Linked DNA regions of Homo sapiens: region 1 is linked to region 2. Evidence: fine-mapped expression QTL. Tissue or cell type: whole blood. Region 2 holds a variant in brackets; the other region holds the start of a gene. All regions are shown on one strand. Distances are between the middles of the regions.

Region 1 (2,761 bases), 42 kb before region 2:
CTGTTTTCTGTGTGCCCTTTTCTTATAAGGACACCAGTCACATTGGATTAAGGGCCCACTTGTTTCAGTATGACCTCATCTTAACTAATTATATCTACAATGACCCTATTTCCAAATAAGGATGCATTCTGAAGTGCTAAGGGTTAGGACTTCTTTTTTGGGAGATCTAATTCAATTTATGACAAAAAAAGTTAACATAAATTGTTCAAAAAAGAATGCTATGGCGAAGTAAGTTTGGAAAACACCATTATAGGATTCTTTACTGTAGTACTTTGGCGGGGCGAAGGTCTTTAATTTGTTCATCATTTAGAGGAGTTGCCAACCTGGGATTATTTTGTAAAGTTTCTCAAAAACCTGTTTGATGATGGACTTCTTTTTACAGGCTGACTGTGAGATCAGCACTCAACGTGGAACACCTGTTCTCATGCCTGATGTGAGGCAGTGGCACCCTAGCACATCCCTCCCTGGTTCTTCTGCTTTCCCCTGTGACCTGCAGCGTCAACTTGAGACAACTTTTCTTCTCTGAGCCTGAGTTTCCTTACTCTAAGATAAGGAAAATAATATACTTTCCCTATGGGTTTGATGTGTGGACTCATTTTTGTTGTTGTTTGTTTTGAGATGAAGTCTTTCTCTGTCGCCCAGGCTGGAGTGCAGTGGACCAATCTCGGCTCACTGCAACCTCCGCCTCCCAGGTTCAAGTGATTCTGCTGCCTCAGCCTCCCGAGTAGCTGGGACTACAGGCACACGCCACCATGCCCGGCTAATTTTTGTATTTTTAGTAGAGACAAGGTTTCACCATGTTGGCCAGGCTGGTCTTGAACTCCTGACCCCAGGTGATCCATCTGCCTTGGCCTCCCAAAGTGCTGGGAGTACAGGCGTGAGCTACCATGCCTGGCCGATGTGCAGACTAATTTAGTTTAAAATAAGTAGGCTGAGAAACACTTGATACAGGGCTTGGCATAGAGAGAAGTAGGCATTCATTTAGTAGTTAACTTTGTTATGCTAACCAGATGGTTCTGAATTTCTTGGCATTTTTATTGGGCATTTCCAGGATCTCAAGAATAATCCTTACTCAGGACAATTTTCACCAACAAGTTTTTCTTGTTCATCTTCCTCTTCCTTTCATCACTTCTTTTTCTCTTTAAAAGAGGGATTTTCTGTATGGTAGTAAGAATTTCCCTTAGGTAAATATTCAACCCAACTGTGGTTTTAATAAGTCTCCAGCATTAGCAAGGAATGGGTGGTTTACTCTGCAGTTCCTTATTCTGATCTTCCAACCCAGTGAGGGGAAGAGGATGTGATCATGCGACCGCCAGCAGAAGGGAAATTGTGAAAGCGACCTGCTGTAGAAAAGGCGGCCCACAGCCACCTCAGCATGCAGAGGAGGCCCAGCTGCTGAGAGGAGTTGCCTGAGAGTGACCTTTGCATCTGCCTGTCCAGCCAGCATGGAACCAAAGCGGATCAGAGAGGGCTACCTTGTGAAGAAGGTGAGCGAAGGTGCCACTTACCAGGGTGTCAGTGGACATGGGCTGGGGAGACTTGGGTTCAGCTCCACCGGCTACCTGCTCATCTTAGGAATGTTTCCTGTTCAACCAGTTGGGTTGAAATAGGGGAGCGTGGTAGCACATAGAATGTTGGAGTGGGGTTAGGGGAGTGGGGATACTCATCCAGCCCCGGCTTCCTTACAGTTTGATATTACGGGTCTGAGAATTCCAGATGGCAGGGCCTGGAAGGTGGGGATCTAAGCTAACTCCCTCCAGATTTAGAATATCCTTTTTAAGAGGCACACAGATGTGTTCTGTCAGAAGATATACTCCTCTTCTATGGAGGTTTCTTGGAGGGACTATTCATTTTTTATTTAAATTCCACTTCCCCTCAGTTCTTTTTTTGGGAGGCAAGGGGAAAAAAGTGATTAAAGAGTTGATATAATGATAGAGTAATTACGGCTTATTTCTTGGGCCATCTTCTTGGAATTGACACGTTTAAAAAAAACCTTATCTTTTTTTAATTGGGCTGAAATCTCTTCACTCACAATTCTTAGTAAATTTGCATAATGTGGCATCGAGGTGGTAGATGCACCATTTTAAAGATTAGGGTACTGAAAAAGGCTTAGCCTCCCTGGTGTGCATCATGAAAATTGAATTTTCTTAGTGCTGTTTGTCTTTCTTCGGATGCTGAGTGTGTGCTGTGTGGTTGTGAAAGCTCCCCGGGATGTGAATTCACACATAGGACTTGGTGTCCTGTGGGCAACACCTATATACACAGATATGCTCACACTAACCTTAGTGAGTGGATTGTTTCAGAAATGAGCTGAACGTAGTGCCTTCCTTCAGGTGCTTAGCTTTTTAGTTGAATGAACAGTGAATGTGAGTCTGTTTTAGGCTACTCATTTGTTTCACGTTTTAACCTACAATGTTCTACCTGTAAGGGGGGTTAAATAGCACACATTGCTGCCTGCTTCCATTTTGACTTCAGGCTGGAGGGACCCTAGGTCATCTGGCCTAATTCCTTCATTTGCAGAAGAGGAGACAGACCCAGAAGGCTCGGTGATTGCCCCAAGTCACATGGCTATGACAGTTGTGACCAGCCACTCCTTCTCTGATGCTTAGGTTTCTGATTCATGGCACTGAACTTTGTTCATTACTCCAGCATTTTCTTAAAGCAGATTTATTCCAAGTTAGGATTTGTAGTGTATTTGTGATGGTGAGAGCTATGAGTTGGTACTGGAGAATAAGTGGGCCCTCAGCTGCTAATCTCTGTA
Region 2 (2,761 bases):
ATTGACAGAGGCAAGCTTCAGAAGGTGGGTAATAACAAACTCATCCGAGCTAAAGGAGCATGTTCTAACCCAATGCAAGGAAGCTAAGAACCTTGAAAAAAGGTTAGATGAATTGCTAGCTAGAATAACCAGTTTAGAGAAGAAATAAATGACATGATGGAGCTGAAAAACACAGCACAAGAACTTTGTGAAGCATACACAAGTATCAATAGCCAAATCGATCAAGCAGAAGAAAGGATAGCAGAGATTAAAGATAAAATTAATGAAATAAAGTGTGAAGACAAGATTAGGGAGAAAAGAATGAAAAGGAATGAACAAAGCCTCCAAGAAATATGGGACTATGTGAAAAGACCAAACCTATGTTTGATTGGTGTACCTGGAAGTGACAGGGAGAATGGAACCAGATTGGAAAACACTCTTCAGGATATTATCCAGGACAACTTCCCCAACCTAGCAAGACAGGCCAACATTCAAATTCAGGAAATACAGAGACCTCCACAAAGATACTCCTTGAGAAGAGCAACCCCAAGACATATAATCATCAGATTGACCAAGGTTGAAATGAAGGAAAAAATGTTAAGGGCAGCCAGAGAGAAAGGTCAGGTTACCCACAAATGGAAGCCCATCAAACTAACAGCTGATCTCTCTGCAGAAACCCTGCAAGCCAGAAGAGAGTGGGGGCCAATATTCGACATTCTTAAATAAAAGAATTTTCAACCCAGAATTTCATGTCCAGCCAAACTAAGTTTCATAAGAGAAGAAGAAATAAAATCCTTTACAGACAAGCAAATGCTTAGAGATTTTGTCACCATCAGGACTGCCTTACAAGAGCTCCTGAAGGAAGCACTATGTAAACATGGAAAGGAACAACCGGTACCAGCCACTGCAAAAACATGCCAAATTGTAAAGACTATCAATGCTATGAAGAAAGTGCATAACTAATGGGAAAATAATCAGCTAGCATCATAATGACAGGATCAAATTCACACATAACAATATTAACCTTAAATGTAAATGGGCTAAATGCTCCCAATTTAAAGACACAGACTGGCAAATTGGATAAAGAGTCAAGACCCATCAATGTGCTGTATTCAGGAGACCCATCTCACCTGCAAAGACACATATAGGCTCAAAAGAAAGAGATGCAGGAAAATTTACCAAGCAAATGGAAAGAAAAAATAAAAAGCAGTGGTTGCAATCCTAGTCCCTGATAAAACAGACTTTAAACCAACAAAGATCAAAAGA[G/T]AAAAAGAAGGGCATTATATAATGGTAAAGGGATCAATGCAACAAGAAGAGCTAACTGTCCTAAATATATATGCACCCAATACAGGAGCACCCAGATTCATAAAGCAAGTTCTTAGAGACCTACAAAGAGACTTAGACTCCCACACAATAATAGTGGGAGACTTTAACACCCCACTGTCAATATTAGAAAGAATATTGAGACAGAAAATTACTAAGGATATCCAGGACTTGAACTCAGCTTTGGACCAAGCAGACCTAATAGACATCTACAGAACTCTCCACCCCAAATTAGCAGAATATACATTCTTGTCAGCACTACATCACACTTATTCTAAAATTGACCACATAATTGGAAGGAAAACACTCCTCAGCAAATGCAAAAGAATGGAAATGATAACAAACAGTTGCTCAGACCACAGTGCAATCAAATTAGAACTCAGGATTAAGAAACTCACTCAAAACCACACAACTACATGGAAACTGAGCAATCTGCTCCTGCATGACTACTGGGTAAATAACAAAATGAAGGCAGAAATAAGTTATTTGAAACCAATGAGAACAAAGTCACAATGTATCAACATCTCTGGGACACAGCTAAAGCAGTGTTTAGAGGAAAATTGATAGCACTAAATGCCCACAAGAGAAATCAGGAAAGATCTAAAATTGACACCCTAACATCACAATTAAAAGAACTAGAGAAGCAACAGCAAACAAATTTAAAAGCTAGCAGAAGGCAAGAAATAACTAAGATCAGAGCAGAACTGAAGGAGATAGAGACAGTGAATCCAGGACGTGATTTTTTGAAAAGATCAACAAAATAGATAGACAACTAGCCAGACTAGTAAAGAAGAAAAGAGAGAAGACTCAAATAGATGCAATAAAAAATGATAAAGGGGATATCACCACTGGTCCCACAGAAATACAAACTACAATCAGAGAATACTGTACACACCTCTATGCAAATAAACTAGAAAATCTGGAAGAAATGGATAAATTCCTGGACCAATACACCCTCCCAAGACTAAACCAGGAAGAAGTCAAATCTCTGAATAGACCAATAACACGTTGTGTAATTGAGGCAATAATTAATAGCCTACCAACCAAAAAAAGTCTAGGACCAGATGGATTCACAGCTGAATTCTACCAGAGGTACAAAGAGGAGCTGGTACCATTCCTTCTGAAACTATTCCAATAAATAGAAAAAGAGGGAATCCTCCCTAACTCATTTCATGAAGCCAGCATCATCCTGATACCAAAACCTGGCAAAGACACAACAAAAAATGAAAATTTTAGGCCAGTATCCCTGATGAACATCAATTTGAAAATCCTCAAAAAAAATACTGGCAAACTGAATCCAGCAGCACATCAAAAATCTTATCCACCATGATCAAGTTGGCTTTATCCCTGCGATGCAAGGCTGGTTCAACATATGCAAATAAATAAATGTAATCCATCACATAAACAGAACCAATGACAAAAACCACATAATTATCTCAATAGATGCAGAAAAGGCCTT

The links. PIP is the estimated chance that this variant, and not a neighbour inherited with it, causes the effect.
Region 1: PLEK starts here. The variant in region 2 is fine-mapped to the expression of PLEK in whole blood (INTERVAL, PIP 0.99).

Annotation. Positions count from the first base shown.
Region 1 is chr2:68,363,907-68,366,667 of GRCh38, forward strand. PLEK (pleckstrin) reads left to right here and starts at 1,376. Exons shown (of 9, transcript NM_002664.3): 1 at 1,376-1,487. The coding sequence starts at 1,446. LOC101927723 (a long non-coding RNA gene) reads right to left here and starts at 2,498. Exons shown (of 2, transcript NR_187652.1): 1 at 1,509-2,498. RefSeq lists an enhancer at 1,336-1,415.
Region 2 is chr2:68,406,355-68,409,115 of GRCh38, forward strand. No RefSeq gene overlaps it. Among named protein-coding and RNA genes, the nearest start is that of PLEK, 42 kb to the left of the region's middle. The variant G/T (reference allele first, on the strand shown) is at 1,246.